Regions from separate parts of the Homo sapiens genome. Here all the other regions are reported to be linked to region 5. The links are microRNA targets in miRTarBase. Many come from high-throughput screens and were not tested one by one. Region 5 holds a microRNA gene; each other region holds the end of a gene's coding sequence. Distances are from middle to middle.
What was found. The annotated mature microRNA hsa-miR-6738-3p reads CUUCUGCCUGCAUUCUACUCCCAG and lies in region 5 at 1,497-1,520, opposite strand. An mRNA with a match to its seed (bases 2 to 7 or 8) in the 3' UTR can be bound and repressed. Matches are read on the target gene's strand: a 7mer-m8 pairs with bases 2 to 8, a 7mer-A1 pairs with bases 2 to 7 and ends in A, and an 8mer does both.

Region 1 (5,078 bases), not on the chromosome of region 5:
ACTTTTTTAAATGAAAGTATTTGATGTTCATCTCAGAAGTTTTATTCTTTAGGTTTTTTTTAAGTGTATTAAATAAAGTTAGACTAATGAGAAGTTTTAAAGTATAATGAATTGTTTCTCCCCGTTTTACAGTGGAGAAGGGAAACTGCCAACATGCGTTGCCACAGGAAGCCCAATCACTGAGTATCAATTCTGGATGTGCAGTGTATGCAAACACGGTGTCCTTGCTCAGGAAATAAGCCACTACAGCTTCTGCCCCTTATGCCATAGTCCAGTGGGATAAAGGAATGATAAACTGTATATAACTGTAAAATATATGTAGCATATATACATGGCTATATGCTGTATATGTAATAAGGTTTATTTCTGTGAGTTTTGTATGAAAATCAGCCTCATTATTTATAGTTGAATTTTTGCACAAAATATATGTTAATAAAATAATTTTTATGGCAATACAACTGTGAAATAATAAGGCCGATTTTCATATAAATGTATGAAAATCAACCATGTTTTCTCTCACCCTCTCTCTTTTGTTTATCTTGTTTTTGGTTACATGATACCATGGAAATATTCCAAATAAATTTTTTTCTCACAGTGTCAAGGTAACTGAATTCATTAAAAAATCTTGAAGGGAGTAGGGAGTGGGGGAAGCATGGGAGTGGGGCAAAGTTGAATTTAGAGAATTTTTATAACCCATGTTACAAGGAAGTTAAACAATTGTAATAATGAAATGAGCTTTCTCTATAGCCATATTTAATTAAATAAGTGTCGAATGTCTTCTTTATTGTATTTTCAGAAGTGAGGCGATGGCATTTTAAGACATTTTTTACAATCTGAATTGTTTCTAATAGCCCTATTCTTCTATTTTAAAACCTGTCCTTTTAGTCTCATTTAAGAGATGGCATTTGGAATTTACACTTTCATATGATTGTGCAGAAAACTTGCCTCTATTTATAATGAAGATAACTTAAACAGAAATATCCATTTTGTAGTTATAGCTTCTGTTGAAACATTGTCACTAAGTTGGACCGTTTATTTACACAAGTATTGTTGAGGGAGTGATTTTTTCTTGATATGCGTCTGTTTTCATTTATTATTAATTTGAAAGATAAACAGTTGTGATCCATAATGGATCATTTCTTATGTCTTTTACATAGCTAATAATGTTCTCTGTTTATTTCTCATGAATTCCCATTTTGTGGCTAAAGACCAGACCTTTGCACTATTTCATCAAGATTATTTTATTGAGGTTTGGCTTACATATAGTAGAGGCAATACATAGAGATACGCAACTTTGTTTTTGCAGCTACAATACACTTTCTCAATCTCATATGTTTTTGTCTTGTAGAGACAGAGACAAGTTCAGCATGTTGCAGATTGGGAATAGTGAGCTATGAGAAGAGATTTAGAGCCTAGATGAGCTTAGGATAGAGAGTGGGCTCATTGGCCTAAATAAAAAGAGAAGACCAGAAGTCTTTGAGGTCTCTGTCTCTATTCATGCGCCTCGTGGAAAATTACCTTGGTACAATGGTAGCCTCTAAATAGACTGCCTCGCAAGCTATTCCAGAGGTCATGGAACAGAAAGCCTTATAAACCAAATAAAAATTCTCAAAATACATTGGTTTATTGAACCAATTTGCAATACACAGTGAGGAACAAGGAGAAAGCAATGATAGATTAACACTGTTAGTGTAACGTGCCAGTGGAGTGGAAAGACCGCAACACCTGAATCCTGGGTTTTGTAATGTTTTTATGTCCTGACTCACATTCTGTCACATACGCTTTCCCCTAATAGTCGGGTTACAAAAAGGACCAGAGTGGCCGCTTGAGCCAGATGACTCAATCAGATGAAATGTGCCTGAGGCCAACGATGTACACTTGCTCTATAGAAGGGTGTCAGGGGCAAGTACACTTCACCACAGCAATAGCTTGCCTATTAGTCTGCTGAGCAGTCATGAATTTTATTGTATTTCTTGGGTAAGGACAGGCCAGAATGAGTGTCACCAGTGGGTAATTGAATCAACTTCTCACACATACTGAAGGCTTTATATGTCTCATGCATACTTAGTGTATCATGAATATTTGGTATCTTTGTGGCTTTTCATATTTTTAGTGCTTCATGAATATTTGGTATCTCTTGCTCCTTTCTATCTGTGGTCACACATACACGCTCTATTAACTTTGCCTAATAAGTCTCCTAGGTTACTAACTTACTTACCTAAATGTAACACAATGAATTCCAGCTTTCTCATTTGTTCTATACCAGAATGGGAAATTTCCCCAAATCAGAAAATCACATCCTAACAAAGAAGTCTGTCTAAGACAGTACATCTCCTGTTGAACTTGCATCTTTCCACAGGACTTTCTGTTTTTAGGGATGAGACTATTCTCTGCTTCATCAAGGAAAGAGAAATGTTCAGGGTTGTAGGGATGGCACACTTATTAGTTCTGCCTGTCTGAAAGGTTCCTGCAGGACAGTTTGGTCAGAGCTGCAATTCTTAGTCCATGGTCTAATGCTTGAGTATCTCTTCTTTCCCTTTCCTGTCTCAGGAATCAGCTGAGAATTCATTCGATTGTCATGCCTCTAGCCCCTTACTGTGATTTGTTGGTTGCACTTTCATTTGCTTTAGTTCTAGAATCACCTGTTGACTCCTCAGACTTCACCTAACTTTGGAAACTCTCTTTTGGAGGCTTCTCATTTCCCCCTAATTCTGTGCTGCCTGAGCCCTAGAATTTTCCCACCAACGAATTATTCCAGGTAGATCCTAAGTTGCTGGATCTAGTTGATATTTAAACAATATCTAGTTGATATTTCTCATTCAGTTGGATCCAGAAACCAGTATCTCTAAAAACAACCTCTCATACCTTGTGGACCTAATTTTGTGTGCGTGTGTGTGTGCGCGCATATGTATATAGACAGGCACATCTTTTTTACTTTTGTAAAAGCTTATGCCTCTTTGGTATCTATATCTGTGAAAGTTTTAATGATCTGCCATAATGTCTTGGGGACCTTTGTCTTCTGTGTAAATGGTACTAGAGAAAACACCTATATTATGAGTCAATCTAGTTGGTTTTATTCGACATGAAGGAAATTTCCAGATAACAACACTAACAAACTCTCCCTTGACTAGGGGGACAAAGAAAAGCAAAACTGACCATAAAAAACAATTACCTGGTGAGAAGTTGCATAAACAGAATTAGGTAGTATATTGAAGACAGCATCATTAAACAGTTATGTTGTTCTCCTTGCAAAAAACATGTACTGACTTCCCGTTGAGTAATGCCAAGTTGTTTTTTTTATTATAAAACTTGCCCTTCATTACATGTTTCAAAGTGGTGTGGTGGGCCAAAATATTGAAATGATGGAACTGACTGATAAAGCTGTACAAATAAGCAGTGTGCCTAACAAGCAACACAGTAATGTTGACATGCTTAATTCACAAATGCTAATTTCATTATAAATTGTTTTGCTAAAATACACTTTGAAACTATTTTTCTGTATTCCAAGAGCTGAGATCTTAGATTTTATGTAGTATTAAGTGAAAAAATACGAAAATAATAAACATTGAAGAAAAAAATAACTTGTGTTTATTCCACGTTTTCTTTATCTATAACTTACGGAGAACACGGTGTTTGCTGTGTCTTCATTTAAGTATTCTGATGGGGGTTGGTTAGGAGGGTATTGGGCTCCAGAGTGGAGAAGGGGAAAAGGGAGCAGGAGGTACAATAGATATACAATACCACTTTTGCTACCAAACAAGGGGGGAAAAACCCCAACAACCTTCCAGAGGCACTAGGCAAATGTCAGATATTGGAGGTTGCTGTGAGCTACTCCTTAATGGTCATGCTGAGTTCTCATTTAGGAACGAAGGAAATTATGTCCTACTAGACCTATAAGAGAAAATAAAGAATACTACATTTGATAATGTAGCTCCAAGATTTTCTACTCAGTTTCAAAATGAAAATAGGAATATTGTATTGCCTCTACTGTCTATTTTAAAGACCATTTTCTCAATTCATTTTTTTCTCTAAGAAACTAATATTTACTGGTTTTTTTTTTTTTGAATATAAAAAGCAGGCCAGGCGCAGTGGCTCACGCCTATAATCCCAGCACTTTGGGAGGCTGAGGCGGGCGGATCACGACGTCAGGAGATTGAGACCATCCTGGCTAACGTGGTGAAACCCCGTCTCTACTAAAAATACAAAAAATTAGCTGGGCGTGGTGGCGGACGCCTGTAGTCCCAGCTACTTGGGAGGCTGAGGCAGGAGAATGGCATGAACCCGGGAGGCAGAGCTTGCAGTGAGCCAAGATAGTGCCACTGCACTCCAGCCTGGGCGACAGAGCAAGACTCCGTCTCAAAAAATAATAATAATTAAAAAAAAAAGCAAAAATGTTCATGGCAGAAATTTTCAAAAATACATAACGGTATAGATGAGAAAGTAAAATTAGTTGATCTTTATAAATAAAATATTTTAGTTGAATGTAAGAGATGAAAAAAACTGAAGTGACACTGAAGGAATTTGTATAATTGGTTTCTTCGTACCAAAATCAGTATTTGTTCTTAAGAGATTTCTTTAAAATTAAAAGAAAGTAGACATTAAAAGGCTTTGGGAAGCCAAGGCAGGCGGATCACAAGGTCGGGAGTTTGAGACCAGCCTGGCCAATATGGTGAAACCCTGTCTCTACTAAAAATACTAAAATTAGGCAGGCATGGTGGCGGGTTCCTGTAGCCCCAGCTACCTGGGAGGCTGAGGCGGGAGAATCGCTTGAACCTGGGAGGCGGAGGTTGCAGTGAGCCAAGATTGTGCCACTACACTCCAGCCTGGGTGACAAAGCAAGACTCTGTCTAAACAAAAAAACAAAACAAAATTATTTAGCTAATTTATTGTTTGGCAGTTTAAATTTCTAGGTAGTAAAATTGAGAGAGATTTAGAAAAAATGAGATGCTTCTACACACTACAATGGCTAAAATTGACAAGAGAAATAGTGAGGGTATAGAACAGCTGAAACCCTCATACATTGCTGATGGAAATGCAAAACAGTACACTCACTTGGGAAAAGTTTGGAAGTTTCTTCT
Region 2 (5,151 bases), not on the chromosome of region 5:
CTGATGCTCCCCATCAATACCCCTCGAAGGTAACCTATTTTCCCATCCATACTCCCCAGAGGGAACCCCTATTTTGAAGGCCATTAATTCTTTTCTCCCTGTGTCTCCGAATCTCACAATGTTCTCCCCTCCTCGCCCCTGTCCCAGGTCTTCAGACCCAGCTGCTGGTAGAAGTGACAGGGTTGGGTTCCAGAGCCAATCCTGGGGATCCTCAGCCGCATTTCTCCCACGTCATCCTTCGAGGGGTCCCAGAGGGTGCCGAACTAGGCCAGGTGCCCTTGGAGCCCGTGGGACCTCCGGAGCGAGGTCTCCTCGCAGCCTCGCTGTCGCCCACGCTGCTGTCCACCCCTAGACCCTTCTCCCTGGAGCTGATTGGCCAGGACGCAGCGGGGCGGCGCCTGCACAGGGCTGCCCCTCAGCCTAGCACTGTAGTCCCTGTCCTTCTGGAGGTGAGACGCCAGGGGAAAGTGCGGCTGGGGCTGGAGAGAGTTAGAGCGGCCCCTTCCCTGAAGAACCCTTCTCTGCAGCTTAGTGGCCCCTCGGGTTTCTTGGCCCCGGGCAGCAAAGTCCCGCTCAGTCTCCGCATCGCCAGCTTCTCGGGCCCTCAGGATCTTGACCTTAGGACTTTCGTCAACCCCAGCTTCTCCCTCACCTCCAACCTCTCCAGGTGAGGCTCATGAACCCTCCAGCTCCCTCTGGCATCTTGCCCGGCCAATGCTTATCCCAAGCCCTGCCCCTGTCCCCCTCCGACTGGCCCTCAGAATCCTCCTCTCCGCTCCCGTGCCCCTGCAGGCGTCCCGACTCTAGGCTCTGGGCAGCCTGGAGCTTTAGCGACGCCTATATCCTCTCTCCAGGGCTCACCTGGAACTGAATGAGTCGGCCTGGGGCCGCCTGTGGCTGGAGGTCCCAGATTCAGCGGCCCCGGATTCCGTGGTGATGGTGACTGTGACTGCAGGGGGACGAGAAGCCAACCCAGTACCCCCGACTCATGCTTTCCTCCGGCTCCTGGTATCGGCCCCAGCCCCGCAGGTGAGGAACCACTACTTTCCATCACAGGGTGGGCAAGGCCGGGGAGGGTGGTGTAGGTTTAATTTGAGTACAGCTCTAGCACACCCTGTCATTCTCTTCCTTTTCCCCACAGGACCGGCACACCACCCCTACCGGCTCATCTGACCCGATCCTCACCACGGCCACCCCTGCCTTTTCCCCCTTCACATTGGTGACTCAAGGCAGGGCTGGGGCAGGGCTGGCTGCGGGCAGCCCCTGGTGGGGCACAGTTGGAGGGGTGCTGCTTCTGCTAGGCCTGGCCTCCTGGTGACACAACGGGCTCTAAAGGGATGGGTCTCCAGCACTATTTTCAACCTGCCCCATTGGTAAGAAGACCTGGGACACATTTGTCACATAGGTCTTAGGACCTTACCTCTCCTAGCTGGGATGAAGGTTTTCTCTTTTTTGTTGTTGTTGTTTTTTTTTTGAGATGTAGTTTTGCTCATTGCCCAGGCTGGAGTGCAGCGGCGCAATCTCGGCTCGCTGCAACCTCTGCCTCCTAGGTTCAAGCGATTCTCCTGCCTCAGCCTCCCAAGTAGCTGGGATCACAGGTGCCCGCCACCACGCCCGGCTAATTTTTTGTATTTTTAGTAGAGACAGGGTTTCACTATGTTGGCCAGGCTGGTCTCAAACTCCTGACCTCAGGTGATCTGCCTGCCTCGGCCTCCCAAAGTGCTGGGATTACAGGCGTGAGCCACCGTGCCCAGCCAATGAAGGTTTTCTTTCTCCATCACATCCCTTTCCTTTCTTAGAAACTTCGAGACTGGGGCTGGGTGCAGTGGCTCACGCCTGTAATCCCAGCACTCTGGGAGGCTGAGGCAGGAGGATCACTTGAGCCCAGGAGGTTGAGGCTGCAGTGAGTTGTGGTCGAACCACTGCACTACAGCCTGAGCGACAGTGAGACCCTATCTCAGAAACAAAACAAAACAAAACACCCTGCAAGACTGGGATAGAGGGCAATGGATATTCCCACAATGCACTTTTCCTAACCCTATGAGAAACAAACCAAAGACATTTTTGGAGAAAGCTGCTTTCTGGAGCAGTTTCAGTTTTATTTTTGTATTTAAGGCTGAAGGACAGTTTCAATAAACATGCTTCTTCCCAGAGGGATTTCAAAGAAAGATCGTTTTTGCATGTCATATAGGGGAGAATGAGGACATGAGACACCAAGAAGATGAAGTTTTCAGGAGCAGAGGAGAAACTTTACACCAACATGTCTGAACTTCATTGACTCACTACCTGGAGCCATTTTTTAGCTGTTGAGTTAAGAAACAGAAAAAGGAGCCTGGGGCTTCTGACTCTTTCACCAGGCTTAGGGGAGTGAGAGGAGGGTTTAGACACGGGTAGGGCCTCTTGGCCCCTTGGTGCAGCCCCGCTGAGCCATCTCCTCCTTTGGCTGGGTGACTCCTTTCTGCTGCCTTGACAACTCCTGGAGGAGAAACAGATGGGGCCTCTGGGCTCCTCCCAGCCCTGTAGGGTGGGGCTCCTGCCCTCCTTCTTGAAGTTTACCTGTTGCTGCCACAAGTTCTGCTCCCTTCGTCTTTCCTTTGAATCCTGGGTGGTGCAGGAACTAGCCTTGTTCAGTGGACTTGGGGAGAACTGGAGGGGAAATTCGCTGTGTTTTCTGTTAAGCCAGCACTGACCCCAACAACTCCCCTCTCTAGTCCAACTTCCCAAAAGTCTAAACTGAAAACAATAAACTCACCTTCTCATGAATCAGATTCTGCAAACAGATGTTCACCTTTTGAATCTGGGCTAACGGGGGGCGACCAGGCTCTGAGTGTAAATCTGTTAGAAAATTCTAGAGGAGGAGTTGGAGGCTGACAACATGGTGAAAACCTGAGGTCGTCTGCCACTCTATTCCTGTCACCACAGGCCATCCCTCTCATCTGGATCCCCTCGTCCCAGTACCCTCCCAGGCAGGTGGGAAAATCCAGTACTCTCCACCTCCATCTCTTTAGCACATCAGTTCCTCCATCTCCCTCAAATAGCACAATACCCCCTTTCACTACTCTTCATGGAGCCTCCCTGTCCATCCCTGCCCCATTGGAATAATCCAGGCCACACCCTCATCTCCATGGAGTGATCCAAATCCCTCTGAATGGAATGCAGACCAGCTTCCTCCAGCCCCAACAATGAACACCAACTTAACACTTGGTGGCATCCTGTCATTACGATGCTGCCTCCAACTCATGATCCCTGACCATTAACTCTCCCCTCTCCAGAGTGGTCTCAGGCTGTGTCTACACATTCCCTGTTCCTCCCTCCCTGGTCCTCCCCCCATTCACACAGAGGGGCAGCCCCCATACCTCACCAAGGGCCCCTAGATGCAGCTGCTGTCGCTGTGCCTCCCTCAGATGGTCTTCAAACCAGGCCTGGCCATGCTGTAGCAGCTCCAGACCCTGCCACAGGGCATCCTGTTCTCTCTCCAGAGCCTGCATCCTGCGTAGCTGGGAAAGGCAATCACAGAGGCTGACTCTCACGCCACAGTAGGGCTCTGGGTTATGGCCCTTTCTCTCCACCCCTAGTTGGGTTCACTGTGTGGTCACTGAGTGTGAACCCAGACTGGCCACTGAGGACCTGGAGGGCAAGGGGAGGCAGGCGGGAACACTGTGGGCCCTCAAGTTGAATGGAAATATAAAGGGCAGATCTATTGAGAGAGTTCCCCTGGGACCTCTTGTTGGGCTGATACTCACCCAAAGGAAGAAGCTCTGGGCCCCTGGGTCTTGGCGGCTTGTCCCCAGCGGCAGCAGCAGGACTGTGTAGGGAGCCTGCACCAAGGGCACCCCGCCAGAGCCCTGGCTCCCCATGGCTCTGAGGTGGGAAGGGTGGAGCCACTCCCACTGGTGCAGCCCGGGCTGGTCCCTCCCCTCCACCCCTGCCTTGCACCCATCCTGCCTCTGTCAGCCTCTCAGGCCCCTTCCTGCTGTGTCTGTCTGAGGCTGGGGTGTTCCTACTTGAGAAGAGAGACCATCTCCCTTGGACCCCTCTGTCTTCCCTCTAATCTGTTTTGTAGGGCCTCTCTGAAGGGGTTCGTTCTCATGAAGTATCCTGGGGTAGAATCCGGGAGTCTTCCTACAGCAACAACACTGTATTTTTACTGAGGCAGGGCAGGTTCCCCTGTGGACTCCTGCTCTGTGTTTTGGATCTTTCCTAGTCTCTTGTTTTGAGACTAAAGAAACAATATCTTTCTTCAAAATAAACTTTATTCCTAATATGAAACAAAATTTCTAGAGAAACTAAAAACTCTGCGTCTGAGGGAGATAAGGAAACAAAGAGGGCATGGCAGCCCACCGGAGTCTCAGGAGGCTGGGGAGGACACTGGAAGGACTCTCAGAGGATGCTGGTGGCAGCAGGCAGCACTTCCTGGCTCATGAAAACGTTCAAGTCCAGGTTAGGATCTTCCAAATCCAGTTTCATAAACTTATCCACTAATGTCTGGCAACTGAAGAAGAGAGAAAATCGCAAGATTTATGGCAGAATGGACAACCAAATCCCTGGGCAGAGGGGAGAGGCTGTGGCACAGAAAACCTGGGATCTTGAAGATTTAGGGATTTCAGAAAGAAATGGTGGGTTTCTGAAGGGCAAAGTGCTGGAGGAAGGCTGAGTCCCTGAAAAGGGGAGAAGAGTTGCAGGAGAAGATGCAGAGAGGGTAAAGACACTGGGGCCATATACGCACTTTTCCATTTGGTTCTTCTTTAGCAAATCCTTGACAGGCTTGATGGGTTTTCCACTGCGGATCAAGTCTGAGACCTAGGAACAAGCAAGAAGGTGGGAGGAGTAAGGGGAGTGGGGAAGAGAAGGGGAAATAAGGGTCAGAAATCCTGTGGACCTAGACCCAGGCCCAGTAGGACTAGGAATGAAAGGGAGCTCTGATGTGGAGGTGGTTGCACATTTGGATCTCATCACCTCCTTGCCACGAGCCACAAGCTTGTCAGGAAGCCCAGCCTGGGCAGCTGTGTGGGAGGCATGGCTGGCCTTCGCAACACCTTCGCAAACCTGATAGAAGAAGACAAGATCGTTGCCATCCTCACAGGTCTCCATGGTCTTAAAAGAGAATAAAAGACAGTGTATCATCAATCACCTCCTTCCTGTCCTGAAACC
Region 3 (5,151 bases), not on the chromosome of region 5:
TCAGTGGATACTTGGTGAGGGCACCAAGTATCCACTAACGTTTCTTAGCTTCTCTGTGTGTGTGCCCATTCATAGGCAGATCCTGGACTCTGTCTCTAGGAGATTAAATTTAAAAGATGCTGGGTCCTAAAGCTCGACCCAGCATCATTTAAACTGGACCGTGTCAATCTGGGGGGACTGGATTGTGAGTGGGATGATTGTAACCAGAAGCCATAGCAAAGGGTGGACTAGCCGCCTAAACATAGAAAGAGCAGGGCTTCCTTCTGCGTTTCACGGGCTGCACTGACTTCATCTGCTCCTGTGGTGTGGGCTCAGTGCGGGAGTCTCTACAGTCCCAGCATGAGTGGGAAATGGGTGGCAAGTGGCCCTCCCTGTTTTGATGAGAGACCTTGGAGGGAACAGAAGTGCCCTTGTCTCGGTTGTAGGTTTCTGTCCCCTTTCCAGAGCCAGTGTAACCACCTCCACCACAGATAGAGATTGGCCCAGTGTCACTGGGTGTTGGCTCCTCGGTCAATCTGGATTTTAATGGTTCCTACTCTTTCTCCCCTCAGGGCCCCCATGCTGCTTGGGCCTTGTGCCAGTTGAAGAGGTGGACAGTCCTGACTCCTGCCAAGTGAGTGGAGGAGACTGGTGTCCCCAGCACCCCGTAGGGGCCTACGTAGGACAGGAACCTGGAATGCAGCTCTCCCCGGGGCCACTGGTGCGTGTGTCTTTTGAAACACCACCTCTCACAATTTAGGCAGAAGCTGATATCCCAGAAAGACTATATATTGTTTTTTTTTTAAAAAAAAAAAGAAGAAAAAAGAGACAGAGAAAATTGGTATTTATTTTTCTATTATAGCCATATTTATATATTTATGCACTTGTAAATAAATGTATATGTTTTATAATTCTGGAGAGACATAAGGAGTCCTACCCGTTGAGGTTGGAGAGGGAAAATAAAGAAGCTGCCACCTAACAGGAGTCACCCAGGAAAGCACCGCACAGGCTGGCGCGGGACAGACTCCTAACCTGGGGCCTCTGCAGTGGCAGGCGAGGCTGCAGGAGGCCCACAGATAAGCTGGCAAGAGGAAGGATCCCAGGCACATGGTTCATCACGAGCATGAGGGAACAGCAAGGGGCACGGTATCACAGCCTGGAGACACCCACACAGATGGCTGGATCCGGTGCTACGGGAAACATTTTCCTAAGATGCCCATGAGAACAGACCAAGATGTGTACAGCACTATGAGCATTAAAAAACCTTCCAGAATCAATAATCCGTGGCAACATATCTCTGTAAAAACAAACACTGTAACTTCTAAATAAATGTTTAGTCTTCCCTGTAACCTTCAAACTGAGTCATGTGTGAGTCAGCATTTTCTTTACATGTTAGAATTCAGTCTCTGAGTATTTGAAGAAAATACCCACTTACAATATTTTCAGGTCCATCAGAAATGAGATCTGAAAAAGGTAGTAAATGTTTCTCTTTTTTGTTTTTTAAAACAGTGAATGTCAGTTGTGCTTGGATTCATGCAGAACACATTACCGTTTAGTCCACAAGGGAACCGTTGTACAACAGACCAGGAAAAACAGGTTCATAGTTCTCTTACCAACTGGACTTGAGATGAAGTTTAGGTCATATTGAAGAAATAGAACTAATCTTTTTTATATAGGTGTGTGTTGAAGACCAAATATTTTCTCCAAAATACTGTTTAGCTAAGTGCTGTGCCACACATGGACATATGGTGCATAATAAATTCACTTCCCTTCTTTCCAAAGATACACCAACATTGCCAGAGTAGTTGACTCACTAGTTTAAAATCAACATTTACTTACTGTTGTCCAACCAAAGGATCAACCATAGATTCTTTTTTAATTGAAATTTTAAAATCTTTATATGTGGAAGTGGAATTAGATGGAGACTGATGCTTGCAATGAAAGCCTTACTACGCTTTGTGTTTTGGGGCTGGAGAGGGTGGGGGGAGCCTGTATTTTCTAGATTTCTGTAAAATTGAGTTACAGATGAAATGCCACTTGAGACAATCTCGTTAAGTGGGGGGCCAGACCCTGGCTTTTAAACATGAAGAATTTGATAAACAGGGTCCTAGGGAAGAGTCACTCTGACTGTTTAGGGCAAGTGCATCCTCTGCTGGCCAAAATAAGTATAGCACCTGCTATTCCTGACTTCTGCATCCTTTTTCCATCAAGCTCAACGTCAGAGAGAACTTCATGTGGAAGTGCAGCATGGTTTTCAGGAAAGCAGTATTTTAAAAATATTATTTAAAAGGAAGGACTGTAAGGAACAGGTAAATGTTAGGAAATGAGAAGCAGAGCAGGGAAGAGAAGAGAAAAAATAAGATACTGTGATTTCAGACAACCTGGCATCACGGCCCAGAGCTCACTTCTGGGGTGGGTAGGGCTGACGCTCTCAGTCATTGCTTTGCTATCCAGAGGCCCCCCAATCTGAGCTGTAACTCACCTTCTAGCCCCACTGGTTTTTACATTTTTTCCTTTTTCTCCTTGATGATCTAAGGTAGCTGTCAAAATGAAGTCTGGTGAACTTTTCTGAAGTGATAGGTGAAACATCTGCTTTCTGCACAGCACTGGAATCATAGCACTCAATGGATTTAGCTCTAAAGAGAAATTTAGCACATGGCTCACAGACCTCCCTAAGCTGGGGAGCCCGCTGTGGTGGGACAGGCTGGCTGGCAGGCATGAGCAACTCCTTTACTCTGAAGTTGTGACAGAGGGGCTGGACTCTGTGGTTTCTTTTTCTTCCAATGCTGAGATTGATCATCGGTGATACTATGGATGACAGTTCAGAAGAGCCAAGTTATATGAACAATTGACCCACAAGTAACTCAGTGTAGGCTGATTTTTGGCCTTACCCTCAGAGGTGAGGCTGCTCCTCTGGGAGCACAGCAGAAGGCAGGGAAGTGTGCCAGGAGCAGGATAGCTTCCCAGCCACCCTGCCCATGCCACACCCTGCTGGTCTACTTGTGTTTGAAGCTTAACTTCCCAAAGACTCAGATGCTCTAACTTAACTACAGATTTAAGACTAAGCCTGGAATCAAGTTGAAATGAACCTAAAGCTATCAACATATTTTGTCCAATTCAAAATAAAGTAATTCAGTGTTAACTGTCGTCAATTCCCAAACATGCGGAATGAAGCCCTGAATATTGTAGAATTAACTAGTGATTTAGTCCAGCTCAGTTTGGGAATAATTATCCCGATTAGCTTTCCTCTCAGTTGAAATGCACAGCAAGTCCTGATGTGGCTCTTCTGTAGACTGTAGGTCCATTCTTGCTGCAATCAGAATCAGAATCTCAGAATGGGAAGGAACCCATTCTACCAATCCTTCATTTGTCAGATAATAAAATGAGGCCCAGGAAGATAACGTAACTTCTCCTGATTCTCTACAATTACCAAGGGGATGGTATCGCCTCAAGACCTTTCTCAGAGACCAGCCACTCTCTCCAGGCAGCTGCTTCTTGTGGCTGCCAGCTCCCACGAAGGCCCCGGTGACCCCCACCTGGCATTCACACCCTGTTCAGTCCCCTCCCACATCACACAGGGTCAGCCTGTGACCCATATGACAATAGTGACGCTATGTCACTTCTGAGCTTGGGCTGTAAAAGACTGTGGCTCTTGTATACATCATTCTCTCTTGCTGTCTCCCTCACTCTTGGATCACTTGCTCTGGGAGAAGTCATATCCCAAGCGGCCCTATGGAGAGGCCCACATGGCGAGGAACTGAAGCCCTGCCTAATGGCCAAGGGAGTGAATTTGCTAATAGCCCCTCCAGCTCCAGCCAAGCTTCAGATGGCTGCAGCCCCAGCTCCTAGTGTGACTGCAACTCCACGAAAGACCCTGAGCCAGAACACCCGGCCAAGCTGTCCCCAGATTCCTGGACCTCAGAAACCCTCTCACTCCTGGGTGAGATCACAAGTTTGTTGTTTCAAGCTAAGTTTGGGGGTAATTTTTTACCGCAATAAATAAGACACTCAGGGCTATGACTAGCATATTTTTAAAAATACTTGAAAGGCACACATGGCTTAGGATATACAACACAGAAAGTGATTTAAAAAAAAAAGTGGGTGCTCTCCAGTAGAGAAGTGACTACATCAGAAATTAATGGTGACAAGTGCAAACAATAAGGTATTCTGACCTCTTAAATAGGAATATGAAGGAATCTTAGGAAGACAATAGGCCAAGTGGCCACCTCTAAGAATATGCTGATGTACAAAGAAAGCAAGACCTGTCTGTAATTTTGGGGGGCACATTAGCAGGCTAATCACAGGTGAGGAAGACTTGGCATTGCTGAGTTCCCTTCTACATTTATGCAATGTTCCTTTCTTCACCCGCCCTTCTCAGTGACCAGCTTATCCTGGAACAGCCTCAATGAGTAGCTCGTTAATACAGAGCTCTTAATCTAAAGAGCTATGCTCTGTTACTAACAGGATTCCAAATGTCAGTGAGATTATCCTGCAATGGTTATAGCCATGAACTTCAATGAGCACTTACCCCCAAACCAAAAGGATACTCTTCAATTAGTTTAAAATGTTATGCATAATCAAAGGTGATTGTTAAAGATGATCTCTAGTAAATCTATTTCATTATCTCCTCATCTATATCAAAACCAGCAAATGGCCCAAGTAAAACCTGAAAGAAAATGGCAGGGGACATGAGAAACTATGGGGAAAACTTAGAATTCTGACGGAGTTGCAGAAATCTTTAAAGAAAAGCCTCTTTATTGACTGTTTTATTAAGCATGCCCCTCTGCTCCACTCAGAACTGAGGAGTCTACAAAAACTGTGGGCAATCCAAGAAGGCTGGTTATTTTCCTGCTTTCTGCCAACCCAAAGCAAACTGCTCTGCCATGTCTGTTTGTATTTCCTGAATCCTGAGCCCTCAAAACACTGCTTTATGAAGTCAACAATGCCAAAACTGAAATTTGCATTTCTATTCTAAGATATAGCTGACAAAATGTCCTTTTCTCCTGCATCCTCTCAGAGAACACTTAATAACATCTAAGTTTATTTTCTAAGGATCAAGAAAACAAAGTTTTCTCATGAATTGCTGAATGATAGTTTTTCTTGCCAAGGGCTAAAAATTCAGGATACCCCCAAATCAAATTTTCCTAAAACAAAATATATTACAGGTGATTT
Region 4 (5,151 bases), not on the chromosome of region 5:
AGATAGAGCCAAGCTGCTTCCATCATGTTGCTGAAAATTATAACATAAAAAATGTTTTAAGATTCTGAAAGTCAAACTAGTCTGTTTTTTGCTATTTTATCTTGGGTTTCTGGAGTCTATGACTATGAGAACATGGGCGAGACATTAAAAAGGAAGCTTATTTTCTATTGTTCTCCCGAATAAATCCTATTACTGTACACTATAATGTATACCATATGTTAAAGAATTCCAGTCAATGATTCTATTGCAGATTCCACACTGAGGGATTAAATTATATAATCACTAGTAAAAATGAAATTTGAAAATATTTAATAAACTATCATGTAAGCTGTTAATGTTAAATACAAGGGTTTATATACTTTAGCAACTAATTGAACATCTGATTCATGATTAGGAATGCACATATTGCTAAATATCAGGACTCTGAGACGATTAGATTCAGTTTAACAAAAATAATTTGATGGAATGAGATGATATGGAAGTAAATGGCATAACTAATAGAGCTAAGGTAATGAGCAAGTCTGGAGGAAACTGACAAGTCCTGTAGCCTCTTTCAGACATATGGCAATCCTATAAGTAAACTTACGATGTTGCCATTCTTAGAAGGTTTAGAAGTTCTGGACTCATTCACCCTGTCAATTAATCTTATGACTAAAATACTTATCCTGAGAACTTTTTTTGTATCTTGGAGCATCAAATTGAATTGAAAATACTCTGAACTTAAACTCCTCAGCTTATACTTTTAAAGGCTTGCCTTATTCAGATGTCTGACATCGTGGAATGGGGAAACATCATGGACTTCAATGTTCGACTTCAGAGAGTTTAAATTTTATTTTGGTCACTTATTACATTTCATGGGCCTGTACAAGTTATTTAACCTCAGACTCAAAATTATCTGCTATAAAGTAGTGTTAACAGCTCCTAACAGGATTGTAGAGACTAAATAAAATAATACTAATAGAGGACTACTCATTAAACAAATGCTCCTTTCCTCTATCTTTTCTTATGGTAGATTAGGAAAAGTAAATATCTTCATATGATTTGCAAAGTCAGTTTGCATCTCTCCGATAGAAGTGGTGAGTAATTGACGAGTCCTATTTTTAGGGCTTTCCCGAGAGAGAGAGAGAGAGAGAGAGAGAGAGAGAGAGAGAGAGAGAGAGAGAGAGAGAGAGACAGAGACAGAGAGAGAGTGTGTTAAAGTCCTTCCAGTAAGCATACATTACATGGTATCACTCAAGATCAATTTACAACATTAATAATAGCTGTATGTTCTGTCATCATGTATTAGTGCTCTGCAAAAGAAAACTGGACTGGAAAATTAGCAGGGTTAAAGAATAAAGTGAAGAATAAAGTGCCTTGGTTAATAATGCACAGAGGCCCTAGAAATGTAATCGCCCAATGGGTTCATTGCCTGCTGCCAGGACAGAGCCGATTTATCAAGACAGGGAAATTGTAATAGAGAAAGAGTTCAATTCATGCAGAGCCAGCTGAATAGGAGACTGGAGTTTTATTATTACTCAAATCAGTCTCCCTGAAAATTCGGAGACTGGGTTTTTTAAGGATAATTTGGTGGGTAGGGGGCCAGGGAATGGAGAGTGCTCACTGATCAGGTCAGAGATAAAAATCAAAGAGCCTTGAAGCTATTCTTGGCTGAGTCAGTTCTTGGGTGGGGGCCACAAGACCAGATGAGTCAGTTTATCCATCTGGGTGGTGCCAGCTGATCCATGGAGTGCAGGAGCTGAAAAATATCTCCAACACCAATCTGAGGTTTCACAATAATGATGTTATCCCTAGGAGCAACTGGGGAGAGTTCGAATCTTGTAGCCTCTAGCTGTATGACTCCTAAGCCTATTTTCTAATCTTGTGGCTAATTTGTTAGTCCCACAAAGGCAGCCTTGTCCCCAGGCAAGAAGGGGGTTTGTTTTAAGAAAGTGCCGTTATCATTTTTGTTTCAAAGGCAAACTATAAACTAAGTTCCTACCAAAGTTAGCTCAGCCTGTGCCCAGGAATAAACAAGGACACCTTGGAGGTTAGAAGCAAGATGGAGTCTGTTAGGTCAGATTTCTCATTGTCTTAATTTTTTCACTGTTATAATTTTTGTATAGGAGGTGTCTGGAACATTACCTGTCTGGTAACCACTCCCACTTTCATTGGCACAAATTTGTATCTTGAAAATATCTGTATTTCTAATAGAAAACCATTCACAATCACAGTGAGGTAAACCCAAGAGAGAAGAGAGAGAATAGACAGAATTCAATTTACTCAAAGAAAACTGAACTTCACCACAAAAGGATCTTTTCTCATTTGGGGGAATTATTTATTAACATTTCTATTATTAAACTCATTTTTAGGCTAATCCTATAAATTCACATATATTAAAGCATATACACATATTTATGTATCATTCCTTGGGGAATCATTAAGCTCTTCTGACATACTAAACAACTATGTAAAGATTAGCAAAAAGTCTCTTTTCTTTGCCATTACTGAAGAATGTGTTTTACCCACTGAAAAGTCTCTAGAATGTAGAATCAGGGTCTTGAGAATGTTTATGCCTTAAATTTCCTAATTTCAAGCCAGCAGAGGGCTCCCTACTGTAACATGATTCTGTATATGTATACAAAATTCTGTGAAAATTGTTGTTAAGGGACAAAAGCAGGATTCAATATATGTTATAGGCTTACGTATTGTCTATAACTATGTGTTAAATTAAGAAGTATAAAAAGAATGAAGCAAAGCCAAACCCACTTCTGATACTTGAGATAGAATGTGTTGCTTTTTCATCATGCAAAATTTAATCTTCCTCTGCTGTTCCAGTTTGAAAACTAAATATGCTTCAATTCTGTATCCTCAGTTCACATAGACACCTGCAGTCTGATTCTCTTAATACTCTATATTTTTGTCCATTCAAAGATTAAATAATGTATTGCTAATATGAGATTATCTAAGTCAGGCTCCTTAACCCAGTGATACATAGGCAAAGCTCAATGAAGAACAGCATTAGTTTTTTTTAGTACATGTGTCTTTGATTATTTAAATTATTAAATTTTATTATTAAATTATTAAATTTTAACTTGATTTCAAGAAATATTGGATAAATGAAAAATAAAGATTTTTTTTTTAACTTTTTCCAGTTCTCATTCTTTGGACTTCATCCTGCTTATCCCTGTCAGTTCCCTCCTAACGAAACACTTGGTGGATTTTTACAATCCCAATGAACAATGTACACACAACACCTTGGGTAATTTTATTTAGAGAATTAACATTGTTCTGATAACTTTAAATAATGCAGAATTGCTGCATGCTGCCCAGTCTGCCAAAACAAATTGACCAAGCATATTAGAGAAATGTATGACAAAGTAACCTGTTGAAAAAACTAATTCTGACAAATTCTGTTCATTTTTCTTTCAGTGATGTCTTTTTTCTTTGAGACGGAGTCTCGCTCTGTCGCCCAGGCTGGAGTGCAGTGGTGCAATCTCCACTCACTCCAACTTCTGCCTCCCAGGTTCAAGCGATTCTCCTGCCTCAGCCTCCAGAGTAGCTGGGACTACAGGCGCACACCACCATGTCCAGCTAAATTTTTATATTTTTAGTAGAGACAGGACTTCACCATGTTGGCCAGGATGGTCTCTATCTCTGGACCTCATGATCCGCCCACCTCAGCCCCACAAAGTGCTGGGATTACAGGGGTGAGCCACCGCGCCTGGCCTCAGTGATGTCTTTTTCTGGAATGCAGCTTCTTAGGTTATATGGATTGCAAAGGTAACTGTGGCCTTAGGAAGACAACCAATGTAATACATTTTTATGACTACAAACATGTATCTATGCATAATTTTAGCAAACATCAAAGGAAACATTGTTTTCAAATTGATGTAAAGGCAATATTCCTTCTTGTTTTTACTGTTTTTAAGTTTCATCCCTTCTTTTTATACTTGTCATATAAGGCTATCAGTTAATATAACATCATTATATTTGAAATCTTTTTTTAATTGTAGTAAAGGGGGGAAGTAACCAAAACTGACTTTAATTTTTAATAGAAAATAACAAATGTGAAAGGCAAACAATAGTAAATAAGTAATTTTACTTTTCATTGAAGAAATAGTTCATATAAGCATTACATAAAATAATTACATTTTAATATGCAGTCATAATATGCGTGTGGACAACTCATTAAAAGAAGAGAATTATGTACAAATTCAGGTTATTTCCAAGGGTGAGAGGTGAGTTGTTTCATGCTTCTAACTCCCCAGAAAGCAATGCAAATGGAAAAAACAATCTGAAGAAATAAAACACAAAGAGAAAAAAAAATTAGAAGTGAATCAATACTATTGCTCAACTGAATTAAAAATATTTCCCTAGAGGAAAATGAACATGGACATTTTAGGGAGTCAAGTTATTAAATTAAATCTAGCAATTGTTCACTGATAGAACTTAGCCAATTTAACTTAAAACATGGTGTGTGAAGACAGGAGCAGGAGTTAAGAAGTTTTATTTCTGTGGCTTGTTTCTTATATTCACAAATCTGGGTCATTTCAAGGAATGAGGCTAGACAAGTTAGATATTCAGACATTTCTTCTGACATTTGGAGATACAGCATGCTGTATGCATTATACTAGATGATCTAATTGCTTATATAGGTTAAGAAACCTTTGGAATAGGAGAAGTAAAAACACTGTTAAAGAATCCCTCCAAGTCAGTATGATCTAGCTTACTATGAATTTCGCCCAACGTGAATTAAATTCTAAACACTGCTGATGATTTACCTCCTCAGTCTTTTGATTTTATCAGGTGTAAAAATGTAACTGCAAATTTCTTTCACACTGAAGACTTAACTGAATCATATTAAGCAGCCTGAAAATTTCATTGAGTTTGTTCAATCCAGGCTCTGGTCATGGTCTTTGCACCATCAGATTTCCCAAAAGTAAACACTTCCCTATGCTCTTACCTAGGCACCGACAATTAAAACTATAGGATTGCTTTCCTGATCACCATTTTAGGTGGTTGGGTAACTGGAATGATGATGAAAGCAAACAATGCCAAAACAACCAGAGTTATTGGGATAGCTGTGCAGGAGTTTCTCTATATTTTTCATGTATGTGTATACTTCCCCTCCATACTATTAAAATAGGACCAGATGCCTCTCCCCAAGAA
Region 5 (5,151 bases):
TGAGGCAGGAGAATCGCTTGAACCTGGAAGGCAGAGGTTGCAGTGAGCCAAGATCACGCCACTGCACTCCAGCCCAGGCAACAGTGCAAGACTCCATCTCAAAAAATAATAATGAAATAAATTAATTAAATAAAATAAAAAAATAAATAAATGAATTTTTTTTTGTAGAGAAGGTGGGTCTCACTATGTTGCCCAGGCTGGCCTCAAAATTCTGAGCTCAAGCGATCCTCCTGCCTTGGCCTCCCAAAGTGTTAGGATTACAGGCCTGAGCCGCCATGCCTTTTTAAAAAAGAATCTGTTTTTACTTCTAAAGGTTGGGAATCACCAACCAGTTGGAGGAGAGAGGCCCCTCCTGCTTCCTAGACTTCCACCACCCATTCATCATCAGACAAAACAGGAAGTCCCTCCCTAGAGTTACTACAAGCCTCACAGGTCAGTTAGGGCCCATTTGGAAGCCACAGCCCAATGGCCTGTACCCAGGCTGCACTCTACCTCTGGTCCATGTCTCCGCCAGGGTCTCACCTCGTGGACTGTGGGGCGGAGACAGACGGCTGCTACCTTCCTCCTCGCTGCCAGTGTCAGGGTCACTGCTGTCTTGCAGCCGCTCTTCGGGGCTCCCCAGTTCCTGCCTCTCTCGGTCCTCAAAGTTTCGATGGACAGAGCGAGTAGTGACAGGTAGATCCAGGCGGTCAGTGCCTCGGCTGGGCTGTGGACAGTGGGCAGGAAGAACAGCAGGTCAGGGACTGAGTAGTGTGAAGATTGGAGGTTCTGCTTGGCTGAAGGCAGCAGCTCTCCCCCCTGGGGCTCACCCATGAGTCCCCTTCAGGAGATCCACCACCAACTGGCCTCTTTCAGCACCACGACCCGAGTTAATTTCCTCCACCCCTGCACCCATCTACATTTCTTTTCAGTTCTCCAACCAGTATCTCAATATCCTTCAAGTCAGTTGACTGATTGCATTTGGGCTCAAATCCCCAATGGCCCAATTTCTTTCGGGCTCCATGGACCCTTATGTCCACCCCAGGTCCATTCACCACTGCAGGCCACCTTACCTGTGGGGGGTTGAAACTCAAGTACAGGGCATCGCCTGCGGGGAGGCTGCGCCGCCGAGGATCCACAGGTCTGCGGGCCCAGGGGGCCTCAGCTGGGAGTGGCTCGGTCTGGCCCAGGGCGGCCAGCTGCCTTCGAGCCTCTTCGGCCTCACGCTCCAGCAGTGCCCGGGCCTGCTCACTCTCCCGGAGCCGGGCCTCCAGGCTGCCAGCTTCGGTTGCCCGTTCTTCACCTAGCCGCCGGCAGCGCCGTAGCTCCTCCTGCAGCAGCGCATGTTGCCGCTGCAGTAATGCCAGTTCCGTGGCCTGCTTTTCAGGGGCCACAGGGGCAGCCCCAGCCCTGCCAGCCTCCCCATCCCGAGAGTTGGCTCGGCACAGCTTCTCCCGCCGCTCAGGGCCCTCAGGGAACCGGGCTTCCATCAGAGTGTCCTGCTGGGCCACAGCTGCCTGGGAGTAGAATGCAGGCAGAAGGGTTTATCAGAACCCCTGTGCTCTTCTACCCCTCGCCTTCACCCTCCAAGGCCCAGATCATCGCTCCTGGAGAGCTTGGATTGGGAGGGTATTTAGAAAGGCCTGTTGGGATGACCATGCCCCACCTAAACAGGCATCTCTAGCCTGGCTCCTCCCCTTCCCCATTCAAGCCCTTGTCCTACTGACCTGTAGGCCATGTAGAAGTCCATAGAGATTGACCAATCGCTGTAACGCCTCCTGAGGACAGACAGGGTGGGAACAGGGCCCCAGCTTTAGGATGGGAGAACTGCCCAAAAGTTGAACAAGGGTGGGTGTGGGGACAGTAGGATCCGGAGACATACTTGAATGTAGACGCTTTCCCCACCCCACTCCAAACTGGGCTCTAACTACTCAGACTAAGAACATCCTCCCTTCAGTCTCCTATACCATCAATTCCCATCTCACCTCTTGCGGTGATCTCAGCTGATTTCCATTTCGATCCTGCAGAAATGGGCAAGAATGGGGAGTCAGCAGGCACACAAATCCTGGGTGCCTGCCCCTGACAGCTTTGTGTTGAGGATCCAGAGGCTGGCTGTCCCTCTCCCACCCTCTTGCCAAGTCCCAGAACCTCTTGAGGACCTACCCTCTGGCTAGAGTCTGAGTCAGCTCTGCAGAGTTCAATGGAGCCATTGAAGGTTCTGGCCTCACCATCTGTTGAGAAGGAGAAAAGGATGGCTGAGCTCACTTCCCTGGGGCCCTGATACCACTTGATCCCTGGTACCACTCTACTAACTTTGGCCCCTCCCACCTACTACCTTGGTCCCCTGCCCTGGTACTCACTGGCAGTGACCCCAGGACTCGTGTTACCACCGCTGTCTGGTTCCAAGGGCAGGGCTGGCTCTCGGGGTGTCAAGAGCAGTTCCACTCCTGGCCCCACCAGCAGGTCTTTCAGACCCTCCACTGTGGGGAAAGAGGAAGAGGTGAGAACAGGAATGACACAGGACCCTGAGGGGAATGCCATTCACCCCCACATGTGGGACACTTGGGCATCTGGGGGAATGCCCCCTGCACTGGCAGTGGGGTTTCACTCACACAACCACTGATGAGGTAAAGGGCAGTAAATGCCTACGAGGCAGCAGAGTCCATGCAGCATGGACGATATGGAGCAGCAGCAAGGACCACACCTCCTCCCCTGCCTTTCCCAGGAACTGGCCCAGAAGAGGCACTCAGGGCCGTTTATGGTTTATAGGGTTGGCATCCCACTTGTCTGTGTTTGTCCATGTCTAGTCACATGTCCACATTCTGTGACGGTGAGTGCTTGAGCCTGGACTCTTCCCTGGGAGCTCCCTCACCCTCACGGATGGCATCCTGCAGCAGCCGCTCGCCACGAGGGGACTCAAGGGACTCAGAGCGGAAAAGGCCCCTGGGCAGGGTGGGCAGGGCCATCCCACTGCCACCATCCTCTTCGGCCTGGAAATGGGTCATCTCAGCAAACAGCCCGACCTTCTCTCGCAGCAGCTCCACCAGTGCCCGGTCCTTCTGCTGCAACTCCACTGCAGATAAGGAACAAGTGAGGACATGAGAGGACGTAGGGGTATGCAAGAGCGCCAGTAGAGGACAGCCCTAGGGGAGAGGGGTAGGGTGGGGCAGTGTGGCAGACTTAATTTTGTTATTTTGGCATTTATAAAAAAGAAAAAGCTTTCTGTTGGTCAGGTGTAGTGGCTCACACCTGTAATCCCAGCACTTTGGGAGGCCAAGGCAGGTGGATCGCTTGAGGCCAGGAGTTCAAGACCAGCCTGGCTAACATGGCAAAACCCTGTCTCTACTTAAAATACAAAAATTAGCCAGGTGTGGTGGCACGCGCCTGTAGTCCCAGCTACTCAGGAGGCTGAGGCACAAGAATCGCTTGAACCCAGGAGGCAGAGGTTGCAGTGAGGCCGAGATCACACCACTGCACTCCAGCCTGGGCGACACAGCAAGACTCTGTCTCAAAAAAAAAAAAAAAAGATTTGTGGAAGGGGTTGCAGGTTGTCCAACAGTGTTCATTCTTTCCATCTTCCTTTAATGAGAAAATGCATAGAAGTTTCATCTGGGCACACATGGCTGCCCAGTTAACAACTATGTTTTCCAGCCTGACTTGCACGTGACTATATTGCTACATGACTACATTCTGGCCAATGGATATGAGCATCTTCCAGATCTGCTCTTAAAAGAAATGGGTATAGGCTGGGCATGGCAGGTGGATCACTTGAGGCCAGGAGTTCGAGACCAGCCTGGCCAACATGGTGAAACCCTATCTCTACTAAAAATACAAAAATTAGCCAGGAGTGGTGGTGGATGCCTGTAATCCCAGCTCCTTGGGAGGCTGAGGCAGGAGAATCACTTGAACGTGGGAGATGGAGGTTGCAGTGAGTCGAGATCACGCCACGCCACTGCACTCCACCCTGGGCGACAGAGCAAGACCCTGTCTCAAAAAAAAAAAAAAAAAAAAGAAAGAAAGAAAAAGAAAAAAGGGTATAAACTCTATTCCTTTACTCCTCCTTGCTAGGTGTGATACAGGTGTGACAGTGGGAGCTGGAGTAGCCACTTCAGACATGACATAGAGATGAAAACTTCATGTTAAAGATGGCAGAGCTGCACCACTACTCTGCACTTCCCACTTTGAACTGTTATGTTGACAGCAATAATATTCTACCTTGTTGGGGTTTTTTTTGTTGTTGTTGTTACCCAGACTGGAGTGCAGTGGTGCAATTATAGTGTATTACAGCCTTGAACTCCTGGGCTCAAACAATCCGCCCACCTCAGCCTCCCGAGTAGCCAGGACTACAGGTGTGTACCATCATGCCTAGCTATTTTTTTTTTTTTAATTTTTTGTAGAGACAGGGTCTTGCTATGTATGTTTTGTTGCCCAGACTGGTCTCGAACTCCTGACCTCAAGAGATCCTCCTGTCTCCCAAATCCTTCTGGGATTAAAGGCGTGAGCCACTGCATCCAGCCAATCTACTTCTTTTTTTTTTTTTTTTTTTGAGATGGAGTCTCCCTCTGTTGCCCAGGCTGGAGTGCAGTGGCGTGATCTCAGCTCACTGCAAGCTCCGCCTCCCAGGTTCATGCCATTCTCCTACCTCACTCTCCTGAGTAGCTGGGACTACAGGCACCCGCCACCACCCCCGACTAATTTTTTTTTTGTATTTTTTAGTAGAGACGGGGTTTCACCGTGTTAGCCAGGATGGTCTCAATCTCCTGACCTCGTGATCCGCCCACCTCGGCCTCCCAAAGTGCTGGGATTACAGGCGTGAGCCACCGCGCCCGGCCAATCTACTTCCTTTTTTAAGGAAGAAGATTTTTGTGGTCTTTTAGTATAGCAGTTAAATCATACCCTAACTAATATAAGGCCTTACAGTGAAAAAGTAAGTTACTCACCCAACCTTGGTCTTCCATATTATTTTTACACACATGGTAGTATACACTTTACATTGTTTTAAACCTTGCTTTTTTCACTTAATATGTTTCAGTTGTGGATCTACACCAGCCCTCATAGAGCCATCTCATCTTTTTAACAGTTGCATAATATTCCATTGTGTGAATGTATTATAAATTACTAAGGAGCTCCTTGTGGGTGGACTTACTCTTAATTCGCCGCAGGTAAGCCTCA
Region 6 (5,151 bases), 130 Mb from region 5:
CTGGGCAGAAATTTCCCGTGAGCATCAAAAGGCGTCAGTCAGGCCGCAGCTCTGGCTCCAGTTCCCGAGGTTTGTTGTCTCCTCACCCCCAGCTGCCAAGCATCCCCCCAACACACACTGATGGGCCCAGCGGTGGAGGGGGGGGTGGGGACGGGGATGGGTCACGGGGCCCTGACGGGTCCCGCAGTTAGGCTCCCTGAGCCCTCGGCTTATAAATACAGGTCTTGCTTTGTGGGTGGGTGCCAGAGTCCTCATGTGGCTTGGAGGAAATCTTTATTTCTCAAATTAAAATAAAATTGCAGCGAGAGTTGTTACTGTGGTGTGTCTGAGTCACTCTAGGAAAACTGTTGCCAAGTTTCTGACCCTGGAAATGTAATTCTCTTCCCCCTCCTCACCATTTCTACCTGGACAGAGTCTGTTTTTCTTCACACAAACACACATACACACAACTGCAGAAAGAAAAAAAATCCAAACAATTGCCAAACCCCAAGAACTGTTGCCAGAGATGGAGGAAAGGGGAAGAGGCCTGGAAGGACACCCATCTTGCTGGGCTTGTCCAAATCTATGGCTTCTAAGAGCCTGAAAGGCATTAGAGCTCTTTTCATCCAATTTACAGACAACGAAGCCGAGAGAAGTGAGTTGGTGACAGAGCTGAGGGAAACGTTTAGGCCCCCGATGAACGGTCCTGTGCTGTGAAAGCTGCCACACTGTTCTAGATCACACGGAATATTCAGTGGGTTAGTTTTTAAAGGGACACTCAGTGCCCTCTGCCTTTTCCCCATCCTCTTCGTTCCACAGGTCTGGAAGCCCTGGTAGCTCTTCCTACAGGCCATCTGGCCATCAGGCAGTGGGCATGCACTACATGTTCGTTTGATGTAAGCTGCATTTCTTGTCACCACTCCTGGCAACACGACCAGGCTTGGGCACTACCCCAAAGCCCACCTTTCAGACCCTCTGCCCACAGCCTATAATTTTGTTCCTGAGATAGGACAAGCTCTTTCCCCTAAGCCTGTCCCACGTCCCACCTGGGCTCTTTCCCTCCCTCCTGTTGTTCATGTCTCACATGGGTACCAAAAGAAAAATGCACACACCCGAAATGAGTTCAAACCAGCCGAAACAAAACTCAGGCAGTGGAGACTTTGGACGGTGTTGGGAGAAGCAGCTTTAGACATTTCTCTTGCTCACTGCCCTTGAGCCCCAGTGACTGCTGCCCGATACCCACTGTCTATTTTAGGAAGCTGGAACTGGGATTCTAAGGAGCCTTGAGGCCAATGTGTTTGTGGGAAGCAGTTGGAAGGTTAGAGAAGTTCTGTTAAATAAAAATGCCCCAAATCGGCCGGGCGTGGTGGCTCACACCTGTAATCCCAGCACTTTGGGAGGCCAAGGTGGGTGGATCACCTGAGGTCAGGAGTTCGAGACCAGCCTAACAAGGTGAAATCCCGTTTCTACTAAAAATACAAAAAATTTGCTGGGCGTGGTGGTGTGCGCCTGTCATCCCAGCTACTTGGGAGGCTGAGGCAAGAGAACTGCTTGAACCCAGGAGGCGGAGGTTGCAGTGAGCCGAGATCGCGCCACTGCACTCCAGCTTGGGCAACAAGAGCGAAACTCCGTCTCAAAAAAACAAAAAACTATGCCCCAAATCCTTACCAGGAATTAGGGCATCATCTTCACTTTCAAAAATCAAAATGAAAAAAAGGAAAACTAAGCCCCAAACCCACCACAAAATCAAGCCTTCAAAACCTGACAGACCTCAGCTGGTGAGTGGGAATGAGCAGGGCTGGGGCTTATACCCCTTGTCATGTGGTGTCTTGTGGGGAGAACGGCTCCTAAAAGTCAATTCCTTGCTCTAGAAGGGTGTCCTCAGGCAGGTTCCTGTTGAGAGAAGAAAGGTCAAAAAAGAAAAACCCTTCTCTGAGCCACATTCCTTGTCATTTGGGATGAAAGAAAGGCCCAGGATCAGACAGAAGTAACCCCATTCCCCTGTGTGAAGTGCACACTCTCAAAACTAGAAAACCTTATTTTAAAAACCTCATTAACTTTCCTTCCCCAAATCACCACTAAAAATGTTCCATTAGAGCTTTTGGCCCAAAGTGCCTATTTTTCTGTGAGATTTGGTCTCCTGAGATGGGAGCTAGGGGGAGCACTTAGCTGAGCCACTGCTTCTGATGAGGTAAAAGGGTAGCTGGAGAGGTGAAGGCCACGGATATGTTCAAACATTCACAGTATCAGATATCTGAAGCAACTTCCATGTCTTTGACCCAAAGAAGCTCCAAAAAGAAAGCAGGAGGGAGAGGGGAAAAACAATACTACATTCTCAGCAGAGGGCTCTGCCTTACCAAAACCACCCGCAACAAAGGAACAGGGGCATCTTTCCGAGGTCTGTGGATCAGGGCTGGTGCCCTCCCTGGCATTCTGATACACTCACATCACTGGCTCTGAGAAAGGGCTGGTTCATGAAGTTTCTGCCATCATCCAAAGGGGATAAGACTAGGGAGAGACGCGGAAGTCCCACTAAGCTGGCTTTGGCTTCCAACACAGCTGACAAGAGTCCTTGGAGGATTTCCCGAAGAATTCCATGGACCCTGTCAGTGTCTGTTGGGGTTGGAAATAAATGGGCAGAGAGGCTAGGCTGAAGGGGTTACAAACCACCCAATTAAAAAAACCCCAAAACTCTTAAAACAGTCTATAGAGTGAAAAGTTGAACAATTCTGATATCCTAATATAGAAAAAGCTCTTCAAAAGGATCAATGAGATCTAGAAGAATCTCTTGGTATAAACTCCCAATAGAAACTGAAATTAATTTTCTGGTGATTTAGAATAATCTTGAAAGTCTGAAGTCTGACTATGGCAGGTTAGCTTCTTTATCATTTTGCTGGTTTCTCTTGGATGGGAGAAGGGCAGAGTTGGGGTAGGTTAGTTCCTAGAGAAAACAAAGAAGCAAAATTTAAAATCCTGCAAAGGAAAAAGCTTCCTAGTCCCATTGCCAAGTTCCTGTGGCCATCAGTGACAATGGGGATGTGAGCAGGTTTACAGGGCCTGGTCCCACCTAGTGAGATTGGTGGCTTCTTCAAGTCTTTTTAAAATTACTTTTAGGCATGAATTTATCTGGATCCCTGGTTCCCAAAAAGCAGCTTCCCTGCTCCCAGCTCTCTACTCTGGTCTCAGAGCTTCAGCCATTACCTCCCTGCTCTGCATGCCCACCCATCTCCAGACAGCCTGATCCTGCTCTTCTTGGTTTTTTCTCCTCTGGCTTTCCCAGGTTCTGGCTCAAAGATACCTGTGACTGGCCAGGCGCGGTGGCTCATGCCTGTAATCCCAGCCCAGCACTTTGGGAGGCCAAGCCAGGTGGATCATTTGAGGTCAGGAGTTCGAGACTAACCTGGCCAACATGGTGAAACCCCGTCTCTACTAAAAATACAAAAATTAGCTGGGCATGGTGGCACATGCCTGTAGTCCCACCTTCTTGGGAGGCTAAGGCAGAATTCCTTGAACCCGGGAGGCGGAGGTTGCAGTGAGCTAAGATCATGCCACTGCACTCAAGCCTGGGTGACAGAATGAGACTCCGTCTCAAAAAAAAAAAAAAAAAAAGAGAGACCTGTGACAGCAGCAAGCAGAGCAGTAGAGAGAAGAGAGGGGGAAGGTGAAGTGGATCTCCAGCAGGATGCATGAAGACTCAGAGGGTAGCTGGGGGCTTATATCCAAGTTTGGGTCCCTCCTCTTACCCAATAATGCTGGCACTGCTACAGGCTGCTTTAGTTGGAGCCAAATACTTAATTTCCTATATCTCCCACATCAGCCTCTCGTCTGCCTTTATCAAGTCCCAGGGTGAACACCTCTTTGTGGGGATGGGCTCCCAGTGTGTCCGAGGGTCCCATCCAGAGCCCTCTCAGGCTGGGACTGTGGGCACCCTCAGCCCCAGCAGGAACGCCCAGTACCTGAGCTCACTCATCAGCAATCTCGGTCTCCTGGTGGACGACCACCTTGGTCACTGACATGTCTGGGTGCTGCTCCTTTGCCTCCTTGATGGCTTGTACAAGGACCTACAAAAGACAGAAACAAGGGCAATGAGGCAGAAAATAGCCTGATGGCGAAGGAAGGCAGTGGTCATCATTTCTCTGATGTTCTGACAGATCCAATACTCCTGTCTGCAGTACCAGGGCAGCTTTAGGCTAAGCCAAGCTGATAATTACCTTACCCACCCTATCCTGCATAGGGAGGCTTCTGGACTGATAACACAGGGACAGGGAAGGTTAGCGCTGTCTTCTAGGAACTGGAGAGGGACTTCGGGGGTCATAGCTGTATCTGTTATATGATCCTTTATTTTTTTTTTATTTTTTGTTGTTGTTGAGATGGAGTCTCGCTCCGTCACCCAGGCTGGAGTGCAATGGTGCAATCTCGGCTCACTGCAACCTCCGCCTCCCAGGTTCAAGCAGTTCTCCTGCTTCAGCCTCCTGAGTAGCTGGGATTACGGGTGTGTACCACTACGCCCAGCTAATTTTTGTATTTTTTGTAGAGATGGGGTTTCACCATGTTGGCCAGACTGGTCTCGAACTCCTGACCTCAAATGATCCACCTGGCTTGGCCTCCCAAAGTGCTGGGATGACAGGTGTGAGCCACTGCACCTGGCCTATATTATCTATTATACCTATCTATTATCTATCATTATACCTGGAGGGTCTGAGAGGATTCACTCAAGATGTGAATCTAAAGGACAAAACAACATCTGTGTTCAGCATGGGTAAGTGGCAAGTTCAGGACGGGAGAGGAAAGTAAAGAAGTGTGCAAGAAAAAGGAAGAGATGTCCTTGGCCAAAGTAGAAGAAAGGAAGGAAGAGGACAAGGGACTGTTATATGCCATGCACTAGCCTAAGTACATTACTTATTACTTAAACTCTATTAAGTTATAATTTATTAATAACTATATTGTTATTAAGATAATAACTATTATCATTACTTTTTACTTAAACATGACAACTTAGTGCATTAAGGTAATGTAATTTTTTGCATTTTATAGGTGAGGAAACTGAATTTCAGTAAAGAGCTTACTGTTTCATAGCTAGTAGGTAGTGAAACAGGGACTTTTTTTTTTTTTTTTTTTTTTTTAGACGGAGTCTCACTGCCCAGGCTGGAGTGCAGTGGTGTGATCTTGGCT

Region 1: miRTarBase lists WDR35 as a target of hsa-miR-6738-3p. Seed matches in the 3' UTR shown: 7mer-A1 at 933-939.
Region 2: miRTarBase lists MSH5 as a target of hsa-miR-6738-3p. The part of its 3' UTR that is shown has no 7-base or 8-base seed match.
Region 3: the mRNA of BOC is a reported target of hsa-miR-6738-3p. The part of its 3' UTR that is shown has no 7-base or 8-base seed match.
Region 4: miRTarBase lists AGMO as a target of hsa-miR-6738-3p. Seed matches in the 3' UTR shown: 7mer-m8 at 3,493-3,499.
Region 6: the mRNA of EPB41 is a reported target of hsa-miR-6738-3p. Seed matches in the 3' UTR shown: 8mer at 2,460-2,467.

What each region holds. Positions count from the first base shown.
Region 1 is chr2:19,908,763-19,913,840 of GRCh38, reverse strand. It overlaps WDR35 (WD repeat domain 35), which reads left to right. Exons shown (of 27, transcript NM_020779.4): 27 at 133-3,578. The coding sequence ends at 283. Among named protein-coding and RNA genes, the nearest start is that of TTC32, 9.3 kb to the right of the region's middle.
Region 2 is chr6:31,761,761-31,766,911 of GRCh38, reverse strand. It overlaps MSH5 (mutS homolog 5), which reads right to left. Exons shown (of 25, transcript NM_172166.4): 23 at 4,957-5,094; 24 at 4,727-4,800; 25 at 4,236-4,492. The coding sequence ends at 4,381. SAPCD1 (suppressor APC domain containing 1) reads right to left here and starts at 4,256. Exons shown (of 5, transcript NM_001039651.2): 1 at 3,744-4,256; 2 at 3,357-3,497; 3 at 2,753-2,848; 4 at 2,557-2,646; 5 at 2,062-2,476. The coding sequence starts at 3,857. The coding sequence ends at 2,381. VWA7 (von Willebrand factor A domain containing 7) reads left to right here. Exons shown (of 17, transcript NM_025258.3): 14 at 148-449; 15 at 528-667; 16 at 855-1,029; 17 at 1,142-1,322. The coding sequence ends at 1,318. It overlaps MSH5-SAPCD1 (MSH5-SAPCD1 readthrough (NMD candidate)), which reads right to left. Exons shown (of 29, transcript NR_037846.1): 23 at 4,957-5,094; 24 at 4,727-4,800; 25 at 3,744-4,492; 26 at 3,357-3,497; 27 at 2,753-2,848; 28 at 2,557-2,646; 29 at 2,062-2,476. It also overlaps SAPCD1-AS1. RefSeq lists an enhancer at 3,107-3,662.
Region 3 is chr3:113,286,124-113,291,274 of GRCh38, forward strand. It overlaps BOC (BOC cell adhesion associated, oncogene regulated), which reads left to right. Exons shown (of 20, transcript NM_001378074.1): 20 at 552-1,336. The coding sequence ends at 739. CFAP44 (cilia and flagella associated protein 44) reads right to left here. Exons shown (of 35, transcript NM_001164496.2): 35 at 807-5,151. SPICE1-CFAP44 (SPICE1-CFAP44 readthrough (NMD candidate)) reads right to left here. Exons shown (of 52, transcript NR_183050.1): 52 at 807-5,151. Among named protein-coding and RNA genes, the nearest start is that of BOC, 77 kb to the left of the region's middle.
Region 4 is chr7:15,197,084-15,202,234 of GRCh38, forward strand. It overlaps AGMO (alkylglycerol monooxygenase), which reads right to left. Exons shown (of 13, transcript NM_001004320.2): 13 at 3,234-4,276. The coding sequence ends at 4,202. Among named protein-coding and RNA genes, the nearest start is that of DGKB, 300 kb to the left of the region's middle.
Region 5 is chr1:155,949,777-155,954,927 of GRCh38, forward strand. It overlaps MIR6738 (microRNA 6738), which reads right to left and starts at 1,560; the gene lies at 1,497-1,560. It overlaps ARHGEF2 (Rho/Rac guanine nucleotide exchange factor 2), which reads right to left. Exons shown (of 22, transcript NM_001162383.2): 14 at 5,126-5,151; 15 at 2,852-3,052; 16 at 2,340-2,459; 17 at 2,143-2,210; 18 at 1,965-2,000; 19 at 1,707-1,757; 20 at 1,053-1,496; 21 at 523-706.
Region 6 is chr1:29,114,588-29,119,738 of GRCh38, reverse strand. EPB41 (erythrocyte membrane protein band 4.1) reads right to left here. Exons shown (of 21, transcript NM_001376013.1): 20 at 3,936-4,040; 21 at 1-2,920. The coding sequence ends at 3,942. It overlaps TMEM200B (transmembrane protein 200B), which reads left to right. Exons shown (of 2, transcript NM_001003682.4): 2 at 1-310. Among named protein-coding and RNA genes, the nearest start is that of TMEM200B, 6.7 kb to the left of the region's middle.